Homo sapiens: one gene and its partners. The protein of the gene in region 1 interacts with the protein of each later gene in a biochemical or structural test. Each region holds a gene or a part of one and is shown in the gene's direction. Other genes may lie near its edges.

Evidence for each region.
Region 2: the proteins of FZD4 (region 1) and SIPA1L2 interact in a test that uses a peptide from one of them, tested with the Homo sapiens proteins (one large-scale study listed by IntAct).
Region 3: the proteins of FZD4 (region 1) and PATJ interact in a test that uses a peptide from one of them, tested with the Homo sapiens proteins (one large-scale study listed by IntAct).
Region 4: the proteins of FZD4 (region 1) and PARD3B interact in a test that uses a peptide from one of them, tested with the Homo sapiens proteins (one large-scale study listed by IntAct).
Region 5: the proteins of FZD4 (region 1) and RADIL interact in a test that uses a peptide from one of them, tested with the Homo sapiens proteins (one large-scale study listed by IntAct).
Region 6: the proteins of FZD4 (region 1) and MAST1 interact in a test that uses a peptide from one of them, tested with the Homo sapiens proteins (one large-scale study listed by IntAct).
Region 7: the proteins of FZD4 (region 1) and HTRA4 interact in a test that uses a peptide from one of them, tested with the Homo sapiens proteins (one large-scale study listed by IntAct).

Annotation. Positions count from the first base shown.
Region 1 is NC_000011.10:86,944,887-86,949,178, reverse strand, and holds the end of FZD4 (frizzled-4 precursor), read left to right. Parts: 3' UTR 1-3,500; downstream 3,501-4,292. UniProt on the Homo sapiens protein: Receptor for Wnt proteins.
Region 2 is NC_000001.11:232,627,059-232,631,852, reverse strand, and holds the start of SIPA1L2 (signal-induced proliferation-associated 1-like protein 2), read left to right. Parts: upstream 1-1,719; 5' UTR 1,720-1,984; intron 1,985-4,794.
Region 3 is NC_000001.11:61,748,789-61,753,080, forward strand, and holds part of PATJ (inaD-like protein), read left to right. Parts: intron 1-4,292.
Region 4 is NC_000002.12:205,300,543-205,304,834, forward strand, and holds part of PARD3B (partitioning defective 3 homolog B), read left to right. Parts: coding exon 1-194; intron 195-921; coding exon 922-1,159; intron 1,160-4,292. UniProt on the Homo sapiens protein: Putative adapter protein involved in asymmetrical cell division and cell polarization processes. May play a role in the formation of epithelial tight junctions.
Region 5 is NC_000007.14:4,796,406-4,800,697, reverse strand, and holds the end of RADIL (ras-associating and dilute domain-containing protein), read left to right. Parts: intron 1-387; coding exon 388-527; intron 528-928; coding exon 929-1,068; intron 1,069-1,214; coding exon 1,215-1,320; 3' UTR 1,321-3,643; downstream 3,644-4,292. UniProt on the Homo sapiens protein: Downstream effector of Rap required for cell adhesion and migration of neural crest precursors during development.
Region 6 is NC_000019.10:12,865,595-12,869,886, forward strand, and holds part of MAST1 (microtubule-associated serine/threonine-protein kinase 1), read left to right. Parts: intron 1-122; coding exon 123-224; intron 225-385; coding exon 386-508; intron 509-1,058; coding exon 1,059-1,168; intron 1,169-1,879; coding exon 1,880-2,058; intron 2,059-2,135; coding exon 2,136-2,383; intron 2,384-3,048; coding exon 3,049-3,255; intron 3,256-3,471; coding exon 3,472-3,701; intron 3,702-4,292. UniProt on the Homo sapiens protein: Microtubule-associated protein essential for correct brain development. Appears to link the dystrophin/utrophin network with microtubule filaments via the syntrophins. Phosphorylation of DMD or UTRN may modulate their affinities for associated proteins.
Region 7 is NC_000008.11:38,976,788-38,981,079, forward strand, and holds part of HTRA4 (serine protease HTRA4 precursor), read left to right. Parts: intron 1-1,165; coding exon 1,166-1,360; intron 1,361-2,427; coding exon 2,428-2,460; intron 2,461-3,171; coding exon of another isoform or gene 3,172-3,204; exon of another isoform or gene 3,205-3,698; intron 3,699-4,292. UniProt on the Homo sapiens protein: Serine protease.

The DNA of each region.
Region 1 (4,292 bases):
TTTGAGACTGAAGTTAAGTGGGCACAGGTGGCCCCTGCTGCTGTGCCCAGTCTGAGTACCTTGGCTAGACTCTAGGTCAGGCTCCAGGAGCATGAGAATTGATCCCCAGAAGAACCATTTTAACTCCATCTGATACTCCATTGCCTATGAAATGTAAAATGTGAACTCCCTGTGCTGCTTGTAGACAGTTCCCATAACTGTCCACGGCCCTGGAGCACGCACCCAGGGGCAGAGCCTGCCCTTACTCACGCTCTGCTCTGGTGTCTTGGGAGTTGTGCAGGGACTCTGGCCCAGGCAGGGGAAGGAAGACCAGGCGGTAGGGGACTGGTCTTGCTGTTAGAGTATAGAGGTTTGTAATGCAGTTTTCTTCATAATGTGTCAGTGATTGTGTGACCAAGGCAGCATCTAGCAGAAAGCCAGGCATGGAGTAGGTGATCGATACTTGTCAATGACTAAATAATAACAATAAAAGAGCACTTGGGTGAATCTGGGCACCTGATTTCTGAGTTTTGAGTTCTGGAGCTAGTGTTTTGACAATGCTTTGGGTTTTGACATGCCTTTTCCACAAATCTCTTGCCTTTTCAGGGCAAAGTGTATTTGATCAGAAGTGGCCATTTGGATTAGTAGCCTTAGCAATGCTACAGGGTTATAGGCCTCTCCTTTCACATTCCAGACAATGGAGAGTGTTTATGGTTTCAGGAAAAGAACTTTGTGGCTGAGGGGTCAGTTACCAGTGACCTTCAATCAACTCCATCACTTCTTAAATCGGTATTTGTTAAAAAAATCAGTTATTTTATTTATTGAGTGCCGACTGTAGTAAAGCCCTGAAATAGATAATCTCTGTTCTTCTAACTGATCTAGGATGGGGACGCACCCAGGTCTGCTGAACTTTACTGTTCCTCTGGGAAAGGAGCAGGGACCTCTGGAATTCCCATCTGTTTCACTGTCTCCATTCCATAAATCTCTTCCTGTGTGAGCCACCACACCCAGCCTGGGTCTCTCTACTTTTAACACATCTCTCATCCCTTTCCCAGGATTCCTTCCAAGTCAGTTACAGGTGGTTTTAACAGAAAGCATCAGCTCTGCTTCGTGACAGTCTCTGGAGAAATCCCTTAGGAAGACTATGAGAGTAGGCCACAAGGACATGGGCCCACACATCTGCTTTGGCTTTGCCGGCAATTCAGGGCTTGGGGTATTCCATGTGACTTGTATAGGTATATTTGAGGACAGCATCTTGCTAGAGAAAAGGTGAGGGTTGTTTTTCTTTCTCTGAAACCTACAGTAAATGGGTATGATTGTAGCTTCCTCAGAAATCCCTTGGCCTCCAGAGATTAAACATGGTGCAATGGCACCTCTGTCCAACCTCCTTTCTGGTAGATTCCTTTCTCCTGCTTCATATAGGCCAAACCTCAGGGCAAGGGAACATGGGGGTAGAGTGGTGCTGGCCAGAACCATCTGCTTGAGCTACTTGGTTGATTCATATCCTCTTTCCTTTATGGAGACCCATTTCCTGATCTCTGAGACTGTTGCTGAACTGGCAACTTACTTGGGCCTGAAACTGGAGAAGGGGTGACATTTTTTTAATTTCAGAGATGCTTTCTGATTTTCCTCTCCCAGGTCACTGTCTCACCTGCACTCTCCAAACTCAGGTTCCGGGAAGCTTGTGTGTCTAGATACTGAATTGAGATTCTGTTCAGCACCTTTTAGCTCTATACTCTCTGGCTCCCCTCATCCTCATGGTCACTGAATTAAATGCTTATTGTATTGAGAACCAAGATGGGACCTGAGGACACAAAGATGAGCTCAACAGTCTCAGCCCTAGAGGAATAGACTCAGGGATTTCACCAGGTCGGTGCAGTATTTGATTTCTGGTGAGGTGACCACAGCTGCAGTTAGGGAAGGGAGCCATTGAGCACAGACTTTGGAAGGAACCTTTTTTTTGTTGTTTGTTTGTTTGTTTGTTTGTTTGTTTGTTTGAGACAGGGTCTTGCTCTGTCACCCAGGCTGGGGCGCAATGGCACGATCTTGGCTCACTGCAACCTCTGCCTCCTGGGTTCAAGTGATTCTCCTGCCACAGCCTCCTGAGGAGCTGGGACTACAGGTGCGTGCTACCACGCCCAGCTACTTCTGTATTTTTAGTAGAGACGGGGTTTCACTGTGTTGGCCAGGCTGGTCTCGAACTCCTGACCTCATGATCTGCCCGCCTCAGCCTCCCAAAGTGCTGGGATTACAAGTGTGAGCCACCACACCTGGCCTGGAAGGAACCTCTTAAAATCAGTTTACGTCTTGTATTTTGTTCTGTGATGGAGGACACTGGAGAGAGTTGCTATTCCAGTCAATCATGTCGAGTCACTGGACTCTGAAAATCCTATTGGTTCCTTTATTTTATTTGAGTTTAGAGTTCCCTTCTGGGTTTGTATTATGTCTGGCAAATGACCTGGGTTATCACTTTTCCTCCAGGGTTAGATCATAGATCTTGGAAACTCCTTAGAGAGCATTTTGCTCCTACCAAGGATCAGATACTGGAGCCCCACATAATAGATTTCATTTCACTCTAGCCTACATAGAGCTTTCTGTTGCTGTCTCTTGCCATGCACTTGTGCGGTGATTACACACTTGACAGTACCAGGAGACAAATGACTTACAGATCCCCCGACATGCCTCTTCCCCTTGGCAAGCTCAGTTGCCCTGATAGTAGCATGTTTCTGTTTCTGATGTACCTTTTTTCTCTTCTTCTTTGCATCAGCCAATTCCCAGAATTTCCCCAGGCAATTTGTAGAGGACCTTTTTGGGGTCCTATATGAGCCATGTCCTCAAAGCTTTTAAACCTCCTTGCTCTCCTACAATATTCAGTACATGACCACTGTCATCCTAGAAGGCTTCTGAAAAGAGGGGCAAGAGCCACTCTGCGCCACAAAGGTTGGGTCCATCTTCTCTCCGAGGTTGTGAAAGTTTTCAAATTGTACTAATAGGCTGGGGCCCTGACTTGGCTGTGGGCTTTGGGAGGGGTAAGCTGCTTTCTAGATCTCTCCCAGTGAGGCATGGAGGTGTTTCTGAATTTTGTCTACCTCACAGGGATGTTGTGAGGCTTGAAAAGGTCAAAAAATGATGGCCCCTTGAGCTCTTTGTAAGAAAGGTAGATGAAATATCGGATGTAATCTGAAAAAAAGATAAAATGTGACTTCCCCTGCTCTGTGCAGCAGTCGGGCTGGATGCTCTGTGGCCTTTCTTGGGTCCTCATGCCACCCCACAGCTCCAGGAACCTTGAAGCCAATCTGGGGGACTTTCAGATGTTTGACAAAGAGGTACCAGGCAAACTTCCTGCTACACATGCCCTGAATGAATTGCTAAATTTCAAAGGAAATGGACCCTGCTTTTAAGGATGTACAAAAGTATGTCTGCATCGATGTCTGTACTGTAAATTTCTAATTTATCACTGTACAAAGAAAACCCCTTGCTATTTAATTTTGTATTAAAGGAAAATAAAGTTTTGTTTGTTAGGTTGTGTGTGACTTGGCATATTTCTGAAAGTATATGACAGCCACTAGGAAGCATATACACCCAGCAGTGAGAAATAGAGGATTCAGTTTGTAGGGCAGATTGGGAACTGCTTTCTGAGGGCCTCTTTCTTTTTTGCTGGGGCTCTTTTTCCCCTGTGGGATTTCTCCTGCGTCAGCAAACCCCCACAGTCTAAGGTCAACAGAATTGATTGCTAATATGGTCATCAGTAACACTCAAGTAGGTCACATGATGCTTTGGATATAACTATAGTTCTCAAGTTGTTATCCCAATGACACCTCTTTTTTTTTTTTTTGGCATTTTCAGTGCATATGGCTGTCTTTGCCTTTCAAGCCCCATTGACTTAATCTGATGGCCTAAAAAAGAGTTTTCCCATCATTGCTAGAACTTTTGGCCTCTTAAAAAAGGGAAGGGAAAGGGGGCTTTTTTTTTCTTCAGATTTTTTTTTTTCTGGCTACCCAGTGGTTCTGTTTGTGTAATAGACATGGGCATATGTCACATTTGTCAATCAGGAAAGTGGCTTCTTTAGCTAATTTTATAAATTGGATGGTCTGTGTCCCCATATCCAGAAAAGTCATCGGACAAAGCAAATTCAAAGCTACTATCAGGATATTGTTATGGGAGTCAGTAATATTATAGACCTCACATACAGAGGGAAGGAGAGCCATCACCGTCTGCTGATGTCCCAGATGTGAACATCAGGCCTCTTGGTTTGCTTTTAAATTGCTTGCCACCCTTTAGCTTCACTTGAATACCACCCTGTTTTGGTGTGA
Region 2 (4,794 bases), on another chromosome or scaffold:
GCCACCACAGGCGCCTGCCACCACGCCCGGCTAATTTTTTGTATTTTTAGTAGAGACTGGGTTTCACCGTGTTAGCCAGGAAGATCCTGATCTCCTGACCTTGTGATCCTCCCGCCTCAGCCTCCCAAAGTGCTGGGATTACAGGCTTGAGCCACCGCGCCCGGCTTCATAAATGTTTGTTAAATGAATACATGACAATCTTGTAAATGCTGATAATGGGGTGACAATTGGGAAACTCATCAAAACCTGGAGTGCTCAGGAATTGTATTATGTCACAGGATTGCTTCTTGACCTGTTTAGTTATATCTAATCCCACAGATTATACCTATAATTTAAAAAGATACGAAAGATTGTATAATGTGTACATGCTTCAGATCACAGAGAAATATAGTGTGGGAAGGACCGCCTCTATTTACCTTTTAACAGGGCTGTGTTCTAGGAAGTGTTTGTGATAGGGAAGTAGAGATAACACTTTTTCTTCAGGAAGAAGTCTGACTCTAGAAGGGGAGAAACTGAAAGCCCCAATCCAGTCTCAGGGAACCCAGCTCAAAACTCTGACAAAAAAGCCTGCTCAGGAAATTCTACGGTGTGGCTGGAAGGTAAGTTAGAGGCTGCCTCCACCTGCTTTATTATTCCTGCGTATAGATGACTGTTGCTGTCCATTTAGGCAGAGTCAATTCCAGTCTAGCTTAAAAGATTCTTCTGAGACCCTTTAATCTTTCAGCATCTAATTCAAATGTCAAGCAATTTACAATAATAGTTTCAAATAATGCTTCCTCACAGGTGAGTCAACATTTCTAAGAAAGCAGAAAAGTTGGGTATAAAAAGTTCAATTCTTCCTCGTCGGAAAAAAGATGCAAGACATTTCTACCGTGGGCTGAGCGCTGCCTGGAGGGCAGGGAGGAAGGGGTGAGCGGACCGCGCTGGGATGTGGGTGCCTGGAACTGCCAATCTCTCCGTTTTCCCCTTGGCTCCTAAAGGTCTCTTAGCAGCATTTCCTGCACGCTGGCACCCCCTGTCCTCCTAACGTTTTACTGCCTGCGTGTTTCTCTGTGCTTCCCCACCCTCCGACCCACAGGGCCCGGGGCGCCCTCCGGGGGCCGGCACACAGCAGGGTCTCGCTTCCTCGCGCTGTCTTCTTCAGATGGGATCACTTCGACTTGCGGCCGTTTGGGCGTTCGCGGGGCCTCGGCGATTCTGTGGCGTCCTGGGCTGTGTATGTAGCCCCAGCGGCCGAGGCTCACGGATCCGACCGCCCGGCCGCCGCGTCTGTCCCAAGTTGGGAGACGGGAGGGCCGGGTGGGGTCGCGCCTGCGCCAGGGGGCGGCTCAGAACCAGACTCGCGGTTTTTAACTTATTCCTCAGAGGGGCGAAAGCGAGTCTCGACAAGGACGGCGACGGCTCTCTAGAAGCCGGGGTCCAGGTAGGCTGCCCGGCCCTCGAGCTCGCCCAGCGCCGCTCATGATGCGCCCCGCAGCCCCCTCCCCAAGAAGGGCGTCCGGGCCCCTCCTGGACGCGCAGCTCCCGCGCGCCGCGGGGCCTGGGAACAGCGCACCGGCTGCGCCCGGAGCCGGGCGGACGGTGAGACTGACGGCGTCCGCGCCCAATCGTGGGGCGGGGCCGAGGGGGCCTGCAGGCAGCGACCAATGGGAGCCCGCAGAGCGGGCGGGGGGCGGTGCCGCTGGGCGGGCGGGCGGTGGCATCGGGAGCCGGCGCGGCAGACTGGGAGCCCGGGAGGAGCTGGCGGAGCGAGAGGAGGAGGAGGACGGAGGAGGAGCACCGCGCCCCCGCCGGCCGCCCGAGCGCAGGCCGAGAGCTCCAGCCGCAGCCAGCGGGTCCGGGCCGCCTCCGCCGGAGCCCGGCGCGGGGAGAGTCCGGGCCGATGGGCAGCCCCGGGCAGCGGCGGGCGGCGAGGCGGCAGCCCGGGTACGCGCCGCCCGGCGCGCACAGGCTGTAGCAGGTTCCGGCGGACGGCGTTGCGAAGGTTCGTGTCGGGGAATCCGACGGGCAGCGTGGCGAGGGTCGGTTCGGGATGCCTGCGGCCAGGCGGGGACTGTCCCGAAGGGGAAGGGGATGCCCTTCGGGGCGCTTTGGGGGGCTGACGGCGGCGAGGGGTGCGAGGGGCGCGGGGGTGCGAGGGTCGCGGCGCAGGGTCCGGCTTGTAGACGCAGATGCGCCCGCGCTCCCGATCCCCGGCTGGAAGAGGAGCCGCCGCCGCCTGTTCTCTCCAAGTTATCGATCGGCTGAAAGGTTATTCCCGTCTCGGCGACACAGGCACTGAGGAGGGTCTTCTCCAGGTGCCCAGAACTTCGCTCTGACTAACGCTCTCTGGAAGGGCTCGCGGTTGCCCGACGCAGCTTCCCCGGCGCGCCTGGCCAGCTGACGCCGAACTTGCTGCGGGGCTAATTCCCCTTCTAGAGGGGGTGCGCCCGGAGCGCGCGCCCTCACCGGGACGGATCCCTCTTTGTAAGACCGGGAGCCTCCGGCGAGCGCTCTTCTCACTCACCGCGACCTTTCTTCCCACTTTGCCAGCTCCTGGGCCTCTCCGGGTCTTCCCGTGTCAGTGAGGGTAGTTTGCCCACGTCCTGGGAATATCCCTGGGAACACCTACAGATTAATTTTCAGCCGTGCCGCAAACCCAAAGAATCAATTTCGGCTCATCATCTGCAAGAGAGAGCCGAGGCTTCTCGGAAAGAGAGAACAACTTGGCATTACCCCTGTGGGAGATATTTGTCATCATTAACCTGCTTGAGTTAAATTAATTCAGCCCAAGATGACTCTGGCCTGAGTATTGGAAAAAATCAAGTGCATTGGTTACGGAATTGTGCTCACCAAAACATGATTTTGGTCAAAACAAAATTGTAGACATTTTGGATTTTGGTTAGATTGAGACTGGGTTTTGACAAGGATGGCTTTTTTTTAAAAAAAACAAGGAAAAAAACCCTCAAAGAATCTTGGTGATTCTCATGTCTTTGCCCAGTAAGTTCAAAATAGTCGCACAGATTTTTCTTTTCTTTGCCTCTTTTGTCTGCAGTCTCCATTCTAAACGTTAACACTAGATGGCTTTCTTATGACAGACATTTAGTAAACTGCCCATTTGAGTCGCGTTTGTGTGCAGCCTAGGTTGTAATTTTTCTAGTGTTACAATTAGTAATTGAAGAAAAAAGATCTCCCAAACTGTTGCTTTTTATTGCTTTCCTAGAAAACCTACACATACCGATATTTTTGCGGATATTGAGAGGTGGCCTATTATTTTTGGCATTCCCAAAGTTGAATTTCAAGAGACAACTTGGTTACTGTATTTAGTTACATCATTTAAGAATGCTTGTTTCATGTTTGGACTTATTTAAAGAATTCAGAGTTCTGTTAGTTTTGTCATTCTGTTTAGACAATATTTCCAGTTAAAAGATGTTTACCGCTTGATTGAATTTCACTGCTTGATTCAGAGTTATAAGAGAGTATTATTCATGAGAAAAATGCAGTCTTTCTTAAGTTTTGGGTATAAATCACATTGATTCTTCCTAAAAGATTCCATTGATCCATTTTGGGAAGAGATGCAGTTAAAGTATCTGCATGATTCATACCAGGGATTGTGTTAGGGACATCTCCCCAGAGGATGTTTGATTTTTTCATTTCTAAGCACAAGCCCTTTTATGACAAGCACAATAGCCCGTAGTTTCAGCAGTAACAGCAGCAGCAGCAGCAGCAGGCTCCCAGTTATGTTTTTAAGCACTTTTATTCTAAAGCAAGATCACGGCAGCCTGTCCAAATCTTGCCTAGGTAGGCAAACTTATTTATACGCTGAGTAAATATCTTGAAATTATCTTTGTAGCTATCATTTATTGTGTGCCTTGCCCAGCTTAAAATAAGACATACTGAATTTGTTCTAAATTAGAGTGTATTCATAAATAGCTGAAGGAAAAAGAAGAAAAACTACAGAGCAAACATCTGGGAAGTAGGAAATGAAATCAGAAACAGCTTTTATCAGTACCCACATTCTACCTATAGATGGGGTGAAATGAACCTGGATAAGAAGCAGTGTAAGCACTTGATCCGGAAAAGCAAGAGCTAGATCACAGGTATGGGGGTGGAGCTTCTGGCTTTTAGTATGGGCCACAGATTTTACCCAGTTGCTTTAAGTATATGTTTTTCATTAGATGCTTTTTATGTTTTGAAATCATAGATTTTCTCAAAGAGCTTTAATTGTATGGAATGTAACTTTTAGTCTAATAAGGGAATTATCAGATCATGATTTGGCTTCTATGATGCTTACTGTAGTTAAAGCTGTGTAATATGGATTTGGAAGGTGTTTTTTTTTTTCTCCCCCTCACCCCGCAAGACTGGGATGGTGTTTTGAAGGGTTCCTTGATACCTGAGCTTAGTAAACACTTGTCCACCTTGGGGATCTTTTTACCTGAGGCAAAGGAGAAGCGGGTTATTATTTTGAAATTAGCAGTCTATTTCTGAAAGTAAGGAAATACTAGCTACCCTGAAAAACCAGTTGTTTGGTAATTGAAACTGGTTTAAAAGCACTGTGTTTGGGCATCGAAACTAGTTTAAAGGGATTGTGTTTCCTGCATACTTTGCAAAGAACTATGTGTTTATGTGGATACAGCCCCTTGCCCCCAACCATAATTGGTAAATGCAGCGTTATTTTTTGAGATTGAGGAAGGCATTGAGTTTTTGAACTTCTGATCAATTTATGGTGGTAGTTGAGGATTACAAATCCTTTTAAAGACACACTGAATTTGAAGAAAATTTAGACTAGGGTATTGTTAATTGAAAAGCTGCTTT
Region 3 (4,292 bases), on another chromosome or scaffold:
GGCACGCACCGGCACGCACCACCACGCTCAGCTAGTTTTTGTTTTTGTAGAGATGGGGTTTTGCCATGTTTTAAATCATTTTGATTGAAAAGAGATGCTAATAGTAGTTATCATTTGTTGAATGTGTACCATGTGCTAGGCCAAATGCTCTAAATTATCCTCTTTAGTGTTTGCAGTATACATATGAAGTAATTTTTTTTTTCTTTTTTTTCTCCTGAGATGGAGTTGCCCAGGCTGCAGTGCTGTGGCACCATCTTGGCTCACTGCAACCTCCATCTCCTGGGTTCAAGCAATTCTTCTGCCTCAGCCTCCCAAGTAGCTGGGATTCAGGTGCCCGCCACCACGCCCAGCTATTTTTTTTTTTTTTTTAAACAGAGTTTTGCTCTTGTTGCATTTTTATTAGAGACAGGGGTTTCACCATGTTGGCCAGGCTGGTCTCGAACTCCTGACCTCGTGATCCACCCGCCTCAGCCTCTGAAAGTGCTGGGATTGCAGGCGTGAGCCACCACACCCAGCCATGAAGTAATTTTTATTAACTCTTTTTTACAAACAAGGGGACTGAGGTGTAGGGAGATTTAAACAATTGGCCTACAGAGCGGGTCCTAGGGATAAACCCTGAGTCTCTGATTTCAAAGCTCATAGGCTATAGAATTTCCCATATTTCAATAATTGGCTATTGAATCAACTGGCAAAAAGTTGATTATTGAAGTACACATTTAGTTCTAATCCTGTTTTTGTATTAGTGACCAATAGGAAATGATCTAAATTCTCGTCAACAGGAGATTGGGTGAAGAAAGTATGTATTCCTACCATCGAATGTTACTTAGTTGTTACAGTGGCTGAGCAGGAACTGCCTATATCATCATGAATAACACCCCTCACCGCAGCCTGGTGTTTTTTTTTTTGGAGACAGGGTCTCACTCTGTTGCCCAGGCTATGGAGTGCAGTGGTGTGATCATGGCTCACTGCAGCCTAGACATCCTGGGCTCAACTGATCCTCCCACCTCAGTCTCCTGAGTAGCTGGGAGTACAGGTGTGTGCCACCACAGCTGGCTAATTTTTAAATTTTTTTGTCAAGATGGGGTCTTGCCATGTTGCCCAGGCTGGTCTCAAACTGGGGCTCAAGTGATCTGCCTGCCTTGGCCTCCCAAAGTGCTGGGATAACAGATGAATAAATCTTAAAAATGTAAAGTTGAGCTTAAAATAGCAAGTTGCTGAAGAATAAGTATACAGTATGATGTAATTTATATAAAGTTTAAAAACCTGCTGAACAGTAATATTGTAAACCAGGACAATGTGTGTTTTAAGAATTTCACATTTGAATTTTGTCTGTATTGATTGCTTGCACTTGGGAAGCTGCCTCATAGTTCAAAGAAGTTAGTGGAACCACTGTGAGATGAACATTCTCTAATGTAGGTTGTACTCTTAGAACCAAAGCAGACCAAGGTCCTGCCCTTGCTTTGACCCTTTGCACACCTTGCTTGGTTTGGTAGATGGCTTTTAGGCCTGGGTCTGTGGGCTTTCAGGGACAGGTCAGTTTCATTTCACTTTAGCTTCCATTAATAATAATTAGTGGATGTTGCTTTGACAATAGGGGCTGGTGGGCAGGGCTTCTGCCTGGTATCCCTTGGGGTTATTTTCTGGAGCTTTTTTTTTTTTTTTTTGAGATGGAGTTTCTCTATTTTTGCCCAGGCTGGAGTGCAATGGTGTGGTCTCGGCTCACCACAACCTCTGCCTCCCGGGTTCGGGTGATTCTCCTGGTACTATTACTACTGAGTAGCTGGGATTACAGGTGCCCGCGACCATGCCTGGCTAATATTTTTGTATTTTGAGTAGAGACGGGGGTTTCTCCATGTTTGTCAGGCTGGTCTTGAACTCCCAACCTCAGGTGTTCTGCCTGCCTCGGCCTCCCAAAGTGCTGGGATACAAGCATGAGCCACCACGCCCGACCCATTTTTCGGCGCTTGTAATGAAGTTCCAGGACGTAGTGTGGTAGAAGAGGGAGATAAGTGAATGTTGAGGGTCAGGTTGTAAATCTTCCCACCATTTAAAATTTGAAGTATTCTCATTTTTAAAGTAGTTATCTACTGAAAGGTCACTAACAGTTGAACCCCTTCCCCATGGAATTAACTCTCTCCAATGGCATCTATGTTTCCTTGCTTTGTTTTTACCTTTTTTCATAGTATCCCTTTCCCTTTTCTATTTTATTTTACTTTTTTTTTTTTTTTTGAGATGGAGTCTCACACTCTGTTGCCCAGGCTGGAGTGCAGTGGTGCGATCTCCACTCACTGCAATGTCTGCCTCATGGATTCAAGTGATTCTCCTGCCTCAGCCTCCCGAATAGCTGGGATTACAGGTGTGCACAATGACACCTGGCTAATTTTTGTATTTTTAGTGGAGACGGGGTTTCACAATGTTGGCCAGGCTGGTCTCAAACTCCTGGCCTCAAGTGATCCGTCTCCTTGGCCTCCCAAAGTGCTGGGAGTACAGGCGTGAGCCACCACGCCTGATTCCTGATATGACCATAATTTCTGGGGAGAAGCTGGGAGTGTACAGTCGGCAGTGCGGGTAAAATTGAATAGCATTTTTGAGGTGGAAACTAATCATTAGTGAATAGTATGAATGCCCAGGTCTTTTTAGTGGGGACTGGCTACATGATCAGAGACCTCTAAGTGTGAAAATTGCCCAGATTTTTTTTGTCATTGTTGCTCGTTGGAGAAAACTGCTACCAACCAGAATACAGAAGCCTACCATAGACTGGGTGCATTGTCTCTAGCCTGTAATCCCAGCACTTTGGGAGGCCAAGGCAGGCAGATCATCTGAGGACAGGAGTGTAAGACCAGCCTGACCAACATGGTAAAACCCTGCCTTTACTAAAAATACAAAAATTAGCCAGGTATGGTGGTGCATACCTGTAGTCTCAGCTACTAGGGAGGCTGAGGCAGGAGGATTGCTTGAACCCTGGAGGTGGAGGTTGCAGTGAGCCAAGACCGCACCACTGCACTCCAGCATGGGCAACAGAGTGAGACCCTGTCTCAAAAAAATAATAATAATAATAAAATAAAAAAGGCCGGGCGTGGTGGCTCATGCCTGTAATCCCAGCACTTTGGGAGGCCGAGGCGGGTGGATCACCTGAAGTTGGGAGTTTCAGACCAGTCTGATTAACATGGAAAAATCTTATCTCTACTAAAAATACAAAATTAGCCCAGCGTGGTGGGTCATACCTGTAATCCCAGCTACTCAGGAAGTTGAGGCAGGAGAATCGCCTGAACCCGGGAGGCAGAGGTTGTGGTGAGCCAAGATCTCTCCATTGTACTCCAGCCTGCGCAACAGGAGCAAAACATCATCTCAAAAAAAAAAAAAAAAGAAGCCTACCATATAGCAGTTTAACTTTGTTCCTACAAAAGTGGCCAAGTTATAGGAAGAGTATTGATATGCATTGGTTAACTTTGAATAGTTTAATGAGAAAATTAGCATGAGTTAACTGAATTATTCTGAAAAACTGACTCTTTTCATTTCTTTCTTTTTTTTTTTTTTTTTTTTAAGACGGAGTCTTGCTCTGTCACCCAGGCTGGAGTGCAATGGCACAATCTTGGCTCACTGCAACCTCTGCCTCCCAGGTTCAAGCGATTCTTCTGCCTCAGACTCCTGAGTAGCTGGGATTACAGGCATCTGTCACCACACCTGGCTAATTCTTGTATTTTCAGTAGAGGCGGGTTTTCACCACGTTGGCCAGGCTGGTCTCAAACTCCTGCCCTTGTGGTCCAAGGCCTCCCTTGTGCCCGCCTCGGCCTCCCGAAGTGCTGGGATTACAGGGGTGAGCCACCGCGCCTGGCCTTCATTTCTTTTTTAAAAAATTTATTTATGTTCATTGAAGCACTATTCACAAGTTTTAATTTCAGATTCTGAATTTAAAGTGGTGTCTTTCAACTTCAATTTCAACATTTCCTGAATGTTCACTGTCAGGAGGATTTAAACATTGCTTAGGCTTAAGCATATATCTGCAAACTGTCAGGATTGTTCTGGAATTTATATATGTTTCCCAAATTCCAGGGATATAGTGGTCCAAAATATAGTATTTTTATATTTAAGGTATTTAGAAAAGTCTTGTTATTTGGTAGGAACACAATGCTAGGACACCTGACTTGAATCTGCATTTGTATGGCAGCAGATGTATTTATTTGAAGTACTGGTGGAGAGCAACCATTATTCTTTGGCTAGGAAAGTTTGTTTTTCGTTTAATCAGTACCTCATAAATGCTGAGCTTTGAGGACAAAGGAATGATAATTAGA
Region 4 (4,292 bases), on another chromosome or scaffold:
AGATTTTGGTCCAACTCTGGGTTTGAAAAAGTCCAGCTCCTTGGAGAGTCTGCAGACTGCAGTGGCCGAGGTCAGGAAGAATGACCTTCCCTTTCACAGGCCCCGGCCGCACATGGTTCGAGGCCGAGGCTGCAATGAGAGCTTTAGAGCAGCCATTGACAAATCCTACGATGGACCTGAAGAAATAGAAGCTGGTAGGATGATATGCTTCCTTAAATGGCTTCTTCATCTCATTATTATCTGCAAATCATGGGCAAGAATGTGTGCTCAACTACAGAAAAAAATGATTTAAGGATCACAATTATATTTTTGATATTAAAAGTAATTCATTTTCCTGATATGTTTTGCCCTTTGGCTTAATGAACATGGAATTGGAGAACACAATATGCAATTTATTTTACAGTGCAAGGCTAAATAAATGTTCTCCTTCACTTTTCTACAAGGACCAACTGTCATTTACCCTTAGGGTAGGAGCACTAAGTATGCATTTCTTGACATTCTCATTCGAGTCATTAGAGGCAGCATCAATCCAAGGACTCCGACTGCATTAATTGGGTAGAAGCAGTTGGGATATTTTGTACTCAAAACTCTCTTCTCACCCTGTTTGTTTCCCAGCATGCAGGCTTTCTGAGCTGATCAAGGTTAACAAGGCAGCTTTCAGAGAGATTAGTGCTTGAACACATATCAAGCCTTTCATACTACCAGCTAAGCAACCGGTTGTCCCCACTCCCAGCATCAAGTCTTGCTCGAAGTAACCAGATTTAGGCAGTCAGATCTTCAAAGGGCGCACGTAACCACATAGAAGGGTAGAACTACAGAGTGCTGTTATTCATTCTTTTGCATTTTACATGTTAGCGTTTCTCTGTATACTAACTGAGTGTGCCCCTGACCATGGGTATTGATTATTTTTTCTCTGTACAGACGGTCTGTCTGATAAGAGCTCTCACTCTGGCCAAGGAGCTCTGAATTGTGAGTCTGCCCCTCAGGGGAATTCGGAGCTAGAGGACATGGAAAATAAAGCCAGGAAAGTCAAAAAAACGAAAGAGAAGGAGAAGAAAAAGGAAAAGGGCAAATTGAAAGTCAAGGAGAAAAAGCGCAAAGAGGAGAATGAAGATCCAGAAAGGAAAATAAAGAAGAAGGGCTTCGGCGCCATGCTGAGGTATGGGCCTGCTTTGAAGGCAAAGTTGGTTCTCATTTTGTCTCTCCTGGTAAAATCACTCCTTTGTCTGTACTCAGAAAAAAGCGCACGCTTTTCCTCGTCTTCAGCCAAATGCATACGGCTCTCAATTCTGTGCTCGTTCTCTTTCTGCAGAGGCAGAGGAGCTTTTTGGGGAAAGTTACAGTGATGACAGGACACTGTCTTAAGTTTGTTGTCAAAGAAAGGTCAACACTATGCCAGGCACGGTGGCTCATGCCTGTAATCTCAGTACTTTGGGAGGCTGGGAGGATTGCTTGAGCCCAAGAGTTCAAGACCAGCCTGGGCAAGGTAGGGAGACCCTATTCTTTTTTTCTTTTTTCTTTTCTTTTTTTTTTTTTTTTTTTTTTTGAGACAGTCGCGCTTTGTCGCCCAGGCTGGAGTGCAGTGGCGTGATCTCGGCTCACTGCAACCTCCGCCTCCTGGGTTCAAGCGATTCTTCTGCCTTAGCCTCCCTAGTAGCTGAGACTATAGGCATGCACCACAACGCCCAGCTCATTTTTGTATTTTTAGTAGAGTGGAGTTTCGCCATGTGGGCCAGGAGTCTTGAACTCCTGACCTCAAGTGATCTGCCTTGTCTGCCTTGGCCTCCCAAAGTGCTGGGGTTTCAGGCAGGAGACCCTATTTCTAAGAAAAAAAAAATTAGCCAGGCACAGTGGTGCATACCTGTAATCCCAAGTACTCAGGAGGCTGAGGCCAGAGCATGGCTTGATCCCAGTAGTTCAAGGCTGCAGTGAGCTATGATTACACCATAAAAGAAAGGCCAATACTTAGTAGAGGCATGGACAATGCCTGCAGTCCTTTGTACCAAAGTGTTATGAAAATAAATACTTCCTCTGACACCACAGGGAAAGTGGGAAGTGGGGAAGCCCTATGTGTTACCTCTGGAATACCTCTTTTGAAGCAGGGGAGTCAGGGTAGATGAACCTCATCCCTCTGTGACTCTAGGTGTGCAGTGGCCGGGCCTCTGGGCACATCACTTGTCACCTCCAGAGGCACTGTGGTACAGGGGAGATGTCACTGGGTCTGGGCTCTGATGCCCAAGTCTGGATCCATGACTCCCCACACATGAGCAATGGGGCTTCACACACATTGCTTAGCTTCCCTGAGCCTTACTTTCCTTACTTTTAAAATGAGGCCAGCATACTTGCTCTACTGACCCAGCACAGTTGTGAGATATGATTTCATATGCTATACATTCATTGACTAGACGGGGCTCAACATGGCACAGTCAGAAAACAGCTTTGTTTCTTCTCTCCCCTTCAAGTATAAACTGTTGAGGCTGCCTCTTCCACACCCTGACATCTCAGCTTTCTGGCTGATAGCTTTCTGGTCACTTTTGGGTAAAAAAAAAAGCAACTTGTTTGTCGGGGGCTAAAATATGCAATCCAATATAAATGAAAGCTTTCTTCCTTTCTGCCTGTTGGACCTGAACCACAAGGAGCATCCTATGGTATGGTGGGAGGCAGGATTCCACCTTCTCCTATTTCTCAGTCTTTGGAACCAGGAGACAAAGACAAGATTCAATAGGATAGGATTTTACTTAACTGGCATTATCTGGTATAATCTGGCCATCAAGGAATCTTTGTGGCTACTTTTGTGGATTTTTTAGAGTGCTCCTTACTATACCAGTCACTAATGTAGGTGATTTTCCCACTGACCTATTTCCCTAAGCCTCTGACCTCAGACATATACCCCTGAGTCTCCTTACCCCGGCTGGTAGACTTCTTGGACAGTGCCAGTTTGAGACAGCTCTAGCTTAACTTACAGCCACAGCATCTACCTGGCTTATTAGAGTTCCTGATCTCCCACCCTCCAAATGATGCAAGTACAGCTTGTTCCCACTGTACCGCTCCTCCTCACCCCACCATAGAGATGTTCCAACCAGCCTTGCATCTTCAGACTTCTCCAGCACATCCCACACCAGCTCTGGGCCTCCTCACTCCAGAAGCACACATCAGACTCTCCCAAGAATGCTGTCATGCATGGGGAAGGGAGGAGGCAGTCAATTTTTGCAAGTCACAAAATAAACAGGTAGGAAGTGGGGTGACAATCTCCTATTATACAATTACCTCCAAATTCCCTAAGGGGTTTACTTGTAGCCCCCTCACTTATTTTGTTGGGTGTTACAGGCAGAAGTACCCCTTTCTATTACTGTCTTTACTCCTATAATTTCTTCTCAAATCAATTGATCACTATACTTCTGTGGGCTGAAGGTGAATGATGGGAGATGATGGTTTAGGGGCCAGTTTGGCCACCTCTTATGAAACCCTTAGGAGATACCTCATTTAAGAATGCTGCGTGTATTTATTACCAATTGTTCTCATTTTGTGATCATCAGCTGAAATTTCTACATAGAAAAGAAAGTTCCATCATTCCATATATAAGTGACATTTAGGGAATACAAATAATCCTCTTAGCAGTGAGCCTTCCCGTTACATTTCCAGTGCTCATGAAATGCTAAGCAAGGTTCCTCATGCTCAAAATCTTGGGAGCGATGTTGCCCCTGGATGTGTTATGACAAGACTTGCTGCGGTCCTGCTATCACCTGGGGTGAGGTTACCCCAGCAGGCCTGATGTCATAATAGCTATCTGAATATTAAAAAACAAAATTTTGGCCAGGCATAGTGGCCCAAGCCTGTAATCCCAGCACTTTGGGAGGCCAAGACGGGCGGATCACCTGAGGTCAGGAGTTCGAGACCAGCTTGACTAACATGGAGAAACCCCTTCTCTACTAAAAATACAAAATTAGCCGGGCGTGGTGGTGCATGCCTATAATCCCAGCTACTCGGGAGGCTGAGACAGGAGAATCGCTTGAACCTGGGAGGCAGAGGTTGTGGTGAGCCAAGATTGCACCATTGTACTCCCGCCTGGGCAACAAGAGCAAAACTCCATCTCAAAAAAAAAAAAAAATTCAGCTAGGCATAGTGGCTCAGGCATGTAATCCCAGCACTTTGAGAGGCTGAGATGGGCAAATCACTTGAGCCCAGGAGTTATAAGACAAGCCTGAACAACATGGCAAAAACCCATTTCCATAAAAAAAGGAAAAAAACACAAATTAGCTGGGCATGGTGGCATGTGCCTATAGTCCCAGCTA
Region 5 (4,292 bases), on another chromosome or scaffold:
AGCGGTGGGAACCCTCAGGGTGCACATGGCCACATCTGGGTGTGGAGGGAGGAGGAGGAGGAGCAGAGATTGCTGAGGAGGTGGCACAGAACCGCGTGGGTCCCTGGAGCTGGAAAACAGCCGCCCCCAGAGGGGCGAGTGTCCTGGGACTGCCAGGGGCGGGGACTGAGGTGCTCCCTCAGGGAACATGGGGGTGTCGCCCATGGGCGGACCCCGACCCTAATGTCTGGGTTGCCGGTCACATTCTGCCTGAACAGCGTCTCCTGGGAGCCACAGGAGGCCATCCCATCCCTGACGCCCTACAGAGGCAGCCAGGCCAGGACATCCCATTCCTCGTCGTGATTCCTGGCGCCTCACTCCCACCCACCTTTCCTGGCCCCCACCCAGGAGACTCTGCAGCCCTTGCGGAGGAGTCCCCTCCAGCCCCGTCCAGCCGCAGCTCCAGCACCGAGGACTTCTGCTACGTCTTCACGGTGGAGCTGGAACGAGGCCCCTCCGGGCTGGGGATGGGCCTGATCGACGGGATGGTGAGTGGCCCAGGACCCTCGCCGCACCCCCATACTGGCTGCCTGGCCCCGCCTGTTCATGCAAGCCTGGCCGCAGCTTGCGTGGCCACGTGGCTACAGGAAGGCCTTCGGGGAGGAGAGTGGGGTTGGCCTCTGCAGCTGGGAGGGGAACCCAGCCTGTCCAACGGCCACGCCCCCTGGGCCTGCTGTCTCTTGCCTCTGTCCTCAAGCCTTTGGGGTCTGTCCTGGGCCTGTGGGGACGGTGGTGTCCACTGCTTTTCTGGAGGGACGCGTGAAACCATGAGTGGGCCTGGCTGGATGCCAGGCGGGGGCCTGTAGGTGCCAAGGGAGGGGCTGCAGTGGTCCTCGCTGGGGACAGCCAGTCGGGCCTGCGGAGCTCTGAGGCCTCTGCTTGTCCCCAGCACACGCACCTGGGCGCCCCCGGGCTCTACATCCAGACCCTGCTCCCGGGCAGCCCCGCAGCGGCCGACGGGCGCCTGTCGCTGGGGGACCGTATCCTGGAGGTGAATGGCAGCAGCCTCCTGGGCCTTGGCTACCTGAGGTACCCCCACCGCATGCACGCCCGGCCCCTTCTCCCAGATGCCCTGCTCAGGGGAGTGGACCTGGGGTAAAGGAGAGGCCCGGCTGCACCCTGTGGGTCTCCCCTGGTGCCCTCCTGCCCACCCCCACCTCTGGCATGGATTTCAGAGCTGTGGACCTGATCCGTCATGGCGGGAAGAAGATGCGGTTCCTGGTCGCGAAGTCCGACGTGGAAACAGCCAAGAAGATCCATTTCCGCACGCCCCCTCTCTAGGGGGGCTGCGAGGACACCCCCACAGGCCCGGCACCCGGTCCCACCTGGTGACACTGGGCTTCCTCCCGCCTTCGTCCCTGTTTTGTAACTGACCAAGTTGGGTCCCGGGTGGGGAGCCTCACCCTGGGGACATGCCTGTTGATAACATGCATCTCAGTGTAGGTTCTATTTATATGGCAGATGACGTGAAATTGTGATGTTTGTTACAGAGCTTTTATGTTTAAAGACTTCAATGGAGAAGTACGGTTCAATAAACTATTTTTCCCGTTCTTAGAGGGTGCCCTGCTGGGGTCTCAACTCGGGCAGCAGGCGTGGGCTGCTCGGAGGGGCCGCAGGGGCTCCCCATGGCCTCTGCCTGCCACCGGCACGGGAGAATGCAGTGACAGCTGTCATCAGGGGATCATCTGAACTGACTCTCCCTGCCCCCGTCCCACCCAGACACAGGGCACTGCAGGAAGCAGCTCCAACAGCCCCTCCCAGCTGAAGCAGGGCCAGACCTGGCAGAGGATGCTGGACTTCTGATCCCGCTGCTCAGCACAGGCCCCAGAGAAAGGTCTAGACACCCAGGCGTTGGAAAGTGGACCGGCCTGATGGTCTCTGAGGCGCCGAGCCCACCCTGGGCCCTGCTTCCTCTCCCAGGACTCCTGCTCCCTCCTGAGTTCCTCTCCCCTACTAAAGCCACCAGCGTGGCCCTGATACCAGGCTGGCGGCCCCAGGCCCTTAATCCTCACCAGCGTCCCCCTGGCCACCGGCCCTAACCCGGGCAGGAGGCCAGCGTCCCTCTCCACCAGCTGGCTGACCATGCGCAGGACCAGGGCAGGGCACTTGCTGCCTCGGGGTGACAGCGTGGGTCGCTGGGCATCCTCAGCAGCTCCACCAACTGGGTGTGGGTGGCTTCCGCGCCCTCCTGGCTGTGGTGGAACTGGTGGCCCAGGGTCATCTTTGATAGCAACAGAGAAACCCTGGGGAAGAGGGTCCCGGCATCAGTTGCAGATGCACCTCTCACTGGGACAGAGGTCTGTGCGGGGTCCCCAGATCGGTGTCCTGGGTCTGTCCCAGGCCCTGGGCCTCGTGCAGCTCCACGCTGCCCCCTGGTGTGCGCTACGGCGAGGTGCAGCGCGTCCGCCCCGCGCCCTCTGCCGACCCGCAGTTCTGTGTGCGGCTCCGCATTGCGCCTGGCTCGAAACGGCGACCACTGCCAGGTTCCCAAAATACTGGATAAAATATATATATATATATAGTGTTTGTATATATATTTAAGATATGTAAAATATATGAATATATATAAATATATAATTATATATGAATATATTACATATTCATGTATACGTAATATATTCGTATATTTTATAAACATTTTTTATATTTTATTATATAAAATATAAATATTTAATTTTTTTTTATGAGACGGAGTCTCGCTCTGTGACCCAGGCTGGAGTGCAGTGGTGCAATCTCAGCTCACTGCAACCTCCACCTCCCAGGTTCAAGCAATTCTCCTCAGTCTCCTGAGTAGCTGGGATTACAGGCGCCTGCCACCACGCTTGGCTAATTTAGTACTTTTAGTAGAGACAGGGTTTCACCACGTTGGCCAGGCTGATTTCAAACTGACATCAAGTGATCTGCCCGCCTTGCCCTCCCAAAGTGCTGGGATTACAGGCGTGGGATTACCATGCCTGGCCTTGTTCTGTTTCTTTTCCTAGGAGTCCCACAACGTGTGTGTTAGCACTGCCGAGAATGTCTCACAGCTCTGGACGGTCTGCATTTCTGGACCTGGTGCAGATCCCAGGATCCTGGACTCTGATTTGATGCCTTAACGGTGGAAGGGGGTTGAGTATATTTTTTATGTGGGAGGGGTGTGGACTGTGGCCAGAGGAAAGACAGTGGCAAGGCATTTCCAAAGGTGGCCACCAACAGTTCCTCCCACAAAGAGAAGGGGGCTTATCTCTTCTTCCCTGCAATATTCTCCGGCCTTCTGACTTGCTCCGAACAACAGGATGCAGCATAAGTGATATTCTGGGACCTTCCAAGCCAGACTGAAGGGCCTTTGGTTTCTATTTTCATGCTCCTGGAACTCAGCATCCATGGAAAGAAGCTCTTGGCATCACCCCAAGGAAGGGAGGCCCCGTGGAGTCGGGGAGGCCCAGCTAGCCTCTGGCCGCTGAAGCACCTAGCTGAGGTGCGGGACTGGTGAGGGCTGCCACTGGCTGTTCTGGTCTTGCTGAGCTTCCAGGCGAATGCAGTCCCACCAGTGATCCCGGGGACACCACGTGGAGCAGAACGACTTCCCAGCCAGGCCCCAGACAATCTACAACACTGTGAAAGGTAACACTTCTTATGGGTGTTTTGTTTTTTGGTTGTTTTGTTGATGGAGTTTCACTCTGGTCACTCAGGCTGAAGTGCAATGGTGCAATACGGCTCACTGCAACCTCCGCCTCCCAGGTTCAAGTGATTCTCCTGCCTCAGTCTCCTGACTGGGATTACAGGCACCTGTCAGCACACGCAGCTGATTTTTGTATTTTTAGTAGAGACCAGGTTTCACCATGTTGGCCAGGCTGGTCTCAAAACTCCTGACCTCAGGTGATCTGCCTGCCTCGGCCTCCCAGAGTGCTGGGATGACAGGCGTGAGCCACCGTGCCCGGCCTGTTTTTGTGTTTTAAAAGCATTTTATTTTGACATAATTATAGATCCAAAGGAAGCTGCAAAAATAGCAGAGTCCCGTGTACCTCCACCAGCTTCTCCCACTGCAAAACCTGAAAACCGACGTTGACTTGTTACTATTAATATAGCAGTTACGCTTTGTACATATTCAGTTGTCACCACTTTTTAAGTTAAAGTGGAATTCACATAGAGTTAGCTATTTAAAGTGTATAATTCAATGGCAAGCAGCACGTTCACAGTGTTATGCAACCATCACCACTGTCTAGTTTGGTCACCTCCAACGGGGAAAACACGGCCACTAAGCAGGCTCTCCC
Region 6 (4,292 bases), on another chromosome or scaffold:
AGGTCAAGGCTGCAGTGAGCCATGATCGTGCCACTGCACTCCAGCTGGGTGACACAGTGAGATCCTGTGTCCAAACAACAACAACAACAAAAACCGCCCCTAAGTTCCGTTTTGTTTTGCAGATGACATCCTGTGGCCCGAGGGGGATGAGGCCCTACCTACGGAGGCCCAACTCCTCATATCCAGCCTCCTGCAGACCAACCCTCTGGTCAGGCTTGGGGCAGGTAAGTCCGCCATGCAGAGGAGCTGAGGGCCCACTGATAGAGAGCAGGCCTCCAAAACCCCAGGCCCAGCCTGTGCTGTGGCCCCGGGGCGGAAGACATGGGGGGCGGGGCTGGGCTGCTGGGTTGGCCATCAGCTGTGGCTGGAATCCCTTCCGTCCCAGGCGGCGCTTTTGAGGTGAAGCAGCACAGTTTCTTTCGAGACCTGGACTGGACAGGGCTGCTGAGGCAGAAGGCCGAGTTCATCCCCCACCTAGAGTCGGAAGATGACACTAGCTACTTTGACAGTGAGCTGGGACACCAGGCACGACCTGGGTCGAGGGGTGGGATCCGGGAAGAGGGACCCTGGGGTAAGTAAAGCCTGGGATAGGGCCTGGCTAAGTACCAAGATGTGATGCCTAGGTGCGAAGGTGGTATTTTGGTGGGGGCGGGGCCAAGTGGGGCGGGGCTGACATACAGGCGGGGCTCAGGCTGAAATGTAGGTAAGAACCTGAGATTGGGCTAGGTGTGGGGCCTGGCCTGGGTGAGTTGTGAGTGTGGGCCTGGAACTGAACTAGAGAGAGGTACTAGCGCTCAGAATGGCCTGGGGTGATGCCAGGGTGCAGAGCACTGTAGGTGGAGCGTGGCCTCTTTGGAGGCGGGGCTAGACGGTGCCACTGAGAATGGGGCAAGGACCTTGCCTGGGAGCGGAGCCTAAATTAAATACACTAATGAGGCAGGGGCGTGGCCTGACCTGAAGACTTGTAAACCCGTCTTGAACCAGGACTGGGCTCCTGTGGGGATGTGATATGAGGAGGAACCCCGTACCCTCAGTCACAGCCCATACCCGCTCCCCAGCCCGCTCAGACAGGTATCACCACGTGAACTCCTATGACGAGGATGACACGACGGAGGAGGAGCCCGTGGAAATCCGCCAGTTCTCTTCCTGCTCTCCGCGCTTCAGCAAGGTGGGCCAAGTCTGGGTGTGGGACAGGGCGAGACCCCAGGAGGGATGGGGCTTGGAGAGACAGTGAGAAACAGGTTCCCTGGTGCCCAAGGTCTCAGGAGCGGGAAGTTATTGATGGGGCGGGAGTCTGGAAGGTGGTAAGGCCACGCAAGAGGCAGGTTCGGGAGTCTATGGGACGGGCCTTTGGCACTGAGTGGAATCTAACAGGAATCAGGACAGTTGTGCAGATTGAGGCCATGGTGGGGCGGGGCTAGGTGTGGGTGGGGCGGGGTCAGGACGTGGGAATGAGGCCAGCAGCGAAGGCGGAGTAAAGCCCAGCGAAGTCTTGCTTTTATTTATTTATTTTTATTTTTTCTAATAACGGGCAGAGAAGCCATAGGCCTTGCTTTGAGAAGCAACTTGTAGAGGCGTGCAGGGCCTAGCCTGGGCTAAGGAGACATAAATTAAGGGGGTTGCTGGGAAGATGGGGCTGTGTAGAGAGCAGATTGGTCAGGGCATCGTCGGGGCAGAGCCTAGAATAAAACGCAGTGCCTAACTTTGTGGTGTGGGGCCTGAACTGAAGAATTGTAGGTTGGGGGATCATGCACAATTGGGCGGAGCCAGGCCTCGGAGGGTGGAGTGCGTTTTGCGGGGGATCCACTGCCAGGAAGCTGATTAGCTCCGGAGTGAAAGTGGAACCCGGGCTGGACTTGCCTCCCACCACCACCTACAGGTGTATAGCAGCATGGAGCAGCTGTCGCAGCACGAGCCCAAGACCCCAGTAGCAGCTGCAGGGAGCAGCAAGCGGGAGCCGAGCACCAAGGGCCCCGAGGAGAAGGTGGCCGGCAAGCGGGAGGGGCTGGGCGGCCTGACCCTGCGTGAGAAGACCTGGAGAGGGGGCTCTCCGGAGATGTGAGCAGGGGAATGGCGGAGTTTGGGGGCGGGGTCGAAGGGGGCGTGTCTTCCATAACCACGCCCCCTCCATGCAGCAAGCGATTCTCCGCGTCCGAGGCCAGTTTCCTGGAGGGAGAGGCCAGTCCCCCTTTGGGCGCCCGCCGCCGTTTCTCGGCGCTGCTGGAGCCCAGCCGCTTCAGCGCCCCCCAAGAGGACGAGGATGAGGCCCGGCTGCGCAGGCCTCCCCGGCCCAGCTCCGACCCCGCGGGATCCCTGGATGCACGGGCCCCCAAAGAGGAGACTCAAGGGGAAGGCACCTCCAGCGCCGGGGACTCCGAGGCCAGTGAGTGCCCTATCGTGCTGCCTTCCCCAATCTTCCCCAATGTCCTACTGGTCATATAGTGAGCATCCCACGAGCCTGGTGCTGTTTATGAAAGATCTCAGGTCCTATTCACATTGCAATTTGGGATTTTTTTTTTTTTTTTTTTTTTTGAGACAGAGTCTCACTCCATCACCCAGGATGGAGTGCAGTGGCGTGATCTCGGCTCACTGCAACCTCCACCTCCCAAGTTCAAGTGGTTCTCGCACCTCAGCCTCCCGAGTAGCTGGGATTACAGGCGCGCGCCACTACCCCCGGCTAATTTTTGTATTTTTAGTAGAGACAGGGTTTCTTCATGTTGGCAAGGCTGGTCTCGAACTCCTGACCTCAAGTGATCTGCCTTCCTTGGCCTACCAAAGTGCTGGGGTTACAGTCGTGAGCCACCACACCCAGCCCAATTTGGGATTCTTAACATTAGAAACACCCCAATACCATGGTCAGTCAGTGATACAGACCGATACAGACTATGTCTCTATATGAGGAGCAGTGAGGCATGCAGGTTACCTGCTCAGATGAAACTCACCATCCATCAAGGGTAAAAAGTGGAAAGAGCATTCCAGGCAGGGAAACAGTATGTGGGAAATCCCTGGCCTTGGACTAATTCCTAACACACTTGCTTTCTGTTGCAGCTGACCGTCCACGCCCAGGTGACCTCTGCCCACCCTCGAAGGATGGGGATGCATCAGGCCCAAGGGCTACCAATGACTTGGTTCTGCGCCGGGCGCGGCACCAGCAGATGTCAGGGGATGTGGCAGTAGAGAAGAGGCCTTCTCGAACTGGGGGCAAAGTCATCAAATCAGCCTCAGCCACTGCCTTATCTGTCATGATTCCTGCAGGTAATGCTGGGCCCCACCTGGCAGGGGAGGGGCTGCCCCCCATTTGAGGCAGGACAGACCAATGAAAATGCTGCATTTTCCCTGTCCACCGTGATTGGCTCCAGGCTGGACCAATGAGAGGCTGCTCTGCCACTGCCTTGGGAGGAGGGAGGAGCAGATACAGGGAGATGTCTATCTTCTTGGTTCTGATTTCTGACCATGGTTGTGTGTCTGTAGTGGACCCACATGGAAGTTCACCCCTTGCTAGTCCCATGTCTCCACGATCTCTGTCCTCCAACCCATCCTCACGGGACTCCTCACCCAGCCGGGACTACTCACCAGCTGTCAGTGGGCTCCGCTCCCCCATCACCATCCAGCGCTCGGGCAAGAAGTATGGCTTCACACTGCGTGCCATCCGTGTCTACATGGGTGACACGGATGTCTATAGTGTCCACCACATTGTCTGGGTGAGTACTCATGGGTGGAGTCTCCATCACAGAGTGGAGGGTGGTGGGGAAAAGGCCCCTCCAGCTCAAACCAGTTAGCCTGGGTGAGACACCTCTGTGACCCTCTATGCCTCTTCCCTCTCTAAACCTGTTTCTTTTTTCTTTTACTTTTTTATTTTAGGCGGAGACTCACTGTGTCGCCAGGCCGGAGTGCAGTGGCAGGATCTCGGCTCACTGCAACCTCTGCCTCCTGAGTTCAAGCCATTCTCCTGCCTCAACCTTCTGAGTAGCTGGGACTACAGACAGGCGCGCGCCACCACGCCCAGCTAATTTTTGTATTTTTAGTAGAGACGGGGTTTCACCATGTTGGCTAGGATGGTCTCAATCTCTTGACCTCGTGATTCACCCACCTCGGCCTCTCAAACTGCTGGGATTACAGGCGTGAGCCACGGTGCCTGGCCGAGACTGTTTCTTCATCTGCAAAATGGGGAGAATAGGCCAGGCGCAGTGGCTCAGGCCTGTAATCCCAGCACTTTGGGAGGCTGAGGTGGGCAGATCACTGGAGGTCAGGAGTTTGAGACTAGCCTGGCCAATATGGTGAAACCCTGTCTC
Region 7 (4,292 bases), on another chromosome or scaffold:
TCTATTTGCTGATATTTTCTGCCCCACTACACTCTCACACCACATCTTTTCTGTTGAATATATGCTTTTCTCTGGTTTCTTTCTGTTCTTTACTCCCTCTTTTATTTATTTGCTTCAACGCCTTTCTGTATATCCCTAACCGTTTCTTTCTTTTCTTTCTTTTTTTTTGAAACAGTCTCCCTCTGTCACCCAGGCTGGAGTACAGTGGCTCAATCTCAGCTCACTGCAACCTCTGCCTCCTGGGTTCAAGTGATTCTCCTGCCTCAGCTTCCTGAGTACCTGGGATTACAGGTGCCTGCCACCACGCCTGGCTAATTTTTGTACTTTTAGTAGAGACTGGGTTTTACCATGTTGGCCAGGCTGGTCTCGAACTCCTGACCTCAAGTGATCCGCCCGCTTCGGCCTCCCAAAGTGCTGGGATTACAGGTGTGAGCCACTGCGCTTGGCCTCTAACTGTTTCTATTAACTATCAAGCAGTCTTTTTTTTTTTTTTTTCCTCCTTCAACAAATGCTGCTTCAGGGAAAATTATTTCTCTACTTGTCTTAGGATATCAGAAATTACTGCGATGGACTCAAAGTTGCTAAGGAATACTTTGAAGTCCTTCCTACACATAGTACTGGTAGTCTGCACATCACATATATTGACATGGTGTCTGAGAGCTTTTTAGAAGTTCAGAGTCTCAGCCTTTACCCAGATAGATGTGCTGACTCAGAATCTGCATTAACATAACATCCCTAGGTGATTTGCATGCACATTACAGTGTGAGAAGTGTCACCCTGGGTGATCTCCTTTCTGTTTGTGGCTTATTCACTTTGACTGTTAAGCTTTGAGCTGGAATGGTGCTGTGTAAATTCCTAATGTCAGTTTATGTTCATCAGTGACTTCACTGGCTGTTTACTAATAGTAATTTCTACAAAGTAATTGTTTTAGATCTTAGAAATGATCCTAGTCATCTTAACACTCAAGAGCTTCATGGTAGTTGGACTTTGAGGAAGAAGTAGAAGGCAATCATAGAAGCTGTGTGAGTGGGTGCTTCTCAGGTGGTAAGGGCCAAGGTGATAGAGACAGCGTCATATATGTGTTAGACACACACTTTGGTCAATTCTGATCGTGATTTGTTCTTTACCCTTTCTGTCCTCCCCATCCCTTTTTGGGCACGTGCAGGCTGAACTTCCTGTACTGATGCTGGGAAGATCATCTGACCTTCGGGCTGGAGAGTTTGTGGTGGCTTTGGGCAGCCCATTTTCTCTGCAGAACACAGCTACTGCAGGAATTGTCAGCACCAAACAGCGAGGGGGCAAAGAACTGGGGATGAAGGATTCAGATATGGACTACGTCCAGATTGATGCCACAATTAATGTAAGTCACTTAGGACAGAGGTGCCCAACCCATGGGCTGTGGACCAGTACAGGTCCATGGCCTGTTAGGAACTGGGCCGCACAGCAGGCTGTGAGCCATGGGCGAGTGAGAATGACTGCCCGAGTTCCACCTCCTGTCAGATCAGTGGCGGCATTAAATTCTCATAGGAGTGCAAACCCTATTGTGAACTGCGCATGCAAGGGATCTGGATTGCATGTTCCTTATAGAATCTAACTCATGCCCGATGATCTGAGGTGGAGCAGTTTCATCCCAAACCACCCCTCCGTCTGTGGAAAAATTGTCTTCCACAAAGCCGGTCCCTGTGCCAAAAAGTTTGGGGATTGCTGACTTAGGAGGCCTTTCCTCAGATCACACAATATTGGCAGTTCAGTGAGAAGAATATGTCAGAGTGAACTTTGGGGATGTCCAGGTTTGGTTGAATCACTGTGGGAGGAATGGAATGCCACTTTGTTAGAGTCTGTCTCGTTCGCTGTGATCGCTGGCATCCATGCTATTAGGTGGTCTGTTGTAGAGGTCACCCCTCCTGTAAGAAGGTGGTGGTCCCTTGGCCAGGCACGGTGGCTCATGCCTGTAATCCCAGCACTTTGGGAGGCCGAAGGGGGTGGATCATGAGGTCAGGCATTCGAGACCAGTCTGGCCAACATGATGAAACCCTGTCTCTACTAAAAATACAAAAATTAGCTGGGCATGGTGGCGGGTGCCTGTAATCCCAGCTACTCAGCAGGCTGAGGCAGGAGAATCACTTGAACCGGGAGGCAGAGGTTGCAGTGAGTCGAGATTGCGCCATTGCATTCCAGCCTGGGCAACAGAGTAAGACTCCGTCTCAAAAAAAAAAAAAAAAAATGAAGGTGGTGGTCCCACTGCTATAGTTCTTTACCTACACTGACTTTGGTATTGGTGATGATAGGGGCACAATTTTGCCGGCCTGGGGGGAATAGGAGCTTGGTGGGCTGCTTTTGGTAAACTGTTTTGGGAGCTATGTGTAAAGGACAAGGGGGAATGTATTCATTAGCTTCACTGATGTCTTTTTCAAATTCTGCTTTTAGTATGGGAATTCTGGTGGTCCTCTGGTGAACTTGGTAAGTGATCACTTTCCTTGTTGCTTCATGTTTCTTCTTAACTTTCAAAGACTTTATTAATTCCAGGCCAGGGGTGGTGGCTCATGCCTGTAATCCCAGCACATTTGGGATGACTGCTTGGGGCCAGGAGTTTGAGACTAGCCTGGGCAAGACAGCAAGACACCATATCTACAAAAACAAAAACAAAAAAGGACTTTACATATTCCATGATGCAGACTTGGGTGCCACTCTTGTGTAGAGAGCTGTGGAATGGTGCTTTTCTGTTCTTGGACCTTAAGTCAATAGTTAGAAAAAATTCAAGATTGTTATCCTGGTGTGTGATCTCATCCCACTGAGAACACTAGGGTTCTAGCTCCGGCTTCCTTTGAAATTTCTCTCTTCCCCGTGCTTTCTGTTTTCATTGGCTAGTTACCCAAAGCCCTGGATTTTATTTATTTATTTATTTATTTAATAGAGACGATGTCTCACTATGTTGCCCAGGCTGGTCTCAAACTCCTGAGTTCAAGTGATCCTCCTGCCTTGGCCTCCCAAAGTGTTAGGATTACAGGCATGAGCCACCATGCTGTGCCAAAAGCCCTGGATATTAAACCCAGGTTTATGCCAAATGACCAGCTTTGCTATGAAATGTAGGTCCTTGAAGACTCCTTGATGCTGCATATGAAGAACTATCTCTCATTTAAAAATGCTAATTACATAATGTCATCTGTCCAGGTTTTTAGTCTTGACCTCTTGACCTGCTTATAGATGAGAGAAAAGCCACAACCAGCACTCCTGACTTCAAGTGAGCTGCCTGCCTTGGCCTCTCAAATACATTGCCGTGTCATGTATTCTTAAATTGTATTCCGTGTCTCTAGTGGAAATGTCAGGGTTTCTAGTTGCCCAAATACATGTGAAAACCTAAGAGAGTGCAATGCTGTTTGACACATAGCATGTGATCATCCTTTCTGAGTCCCTTTGCACTGATTGCTTTTGGTTCCTGTTTAAATATTACATTTGCTTTTAGAATGAATTTTATGCAAAATGATTGTTTTTTTTTTTTTACTCATAGCATTGCATGTCATTTTTCTTTGTTTTGTTCCTGCCTTCTCCATTAGACAATGAGTTTACTAGAGCAGGGATGAAATGCAGAATTTCAGGCCATACCCCCGACCTACTGAATTACAATCTGTAGTTTAACACAATCAGAAATCTCTTTTCTGGCTGGGTACGGTGGCTCACTCCTGTAATCCCAGCACTTTGGGAGTCTGAGGTGGGTGGATCACCTGAGGTCAGGAGTTCAAAACCAGCCTGGCCAACATGGTGAAACCCCATCTCTACCTAACATACAAAAAAAAAAAAAAATTAACTGGGCATGGTGGCATGCGCCTGTAATCCCAGCTACTTGGGAGGCTGAGGCAGGAGAATCGCTTGAACCCGGGAGGCAGAGGTTGCAATGAGCCAAGGTTGCACCAATGCACTCCAGCCTGGGCAACACAGTGAGACTCCGTCTCAAAAAGAAAAGAAAAAAAAAAAGAAATCTCTTTTTTATCCTTTCCCATTACCTAAAAGGCTAAAGGAAGATGAGGTACATAAAGAGGAAAATATTTTCTACCTCATACCTTTAGCTTAGCAGAGCTTTGTTCCCTAAGGTCAATTTTGCTAATTCTCAGTGCAGTGTTACTGACAATCCCACAGCTTTTTACCTTTTCCATGTTTATTTTTACTTTTAAATAATAAAAAGGCAAATGCTCCTTGTCCTTCTACCTTTGTCAAAATACAAACTGTGGCTCACTTTTAAAGTCAATGTAACTTACTAAAGGAAAAAAATGAGCTTAAGTTTTTTTTTTTTTTTT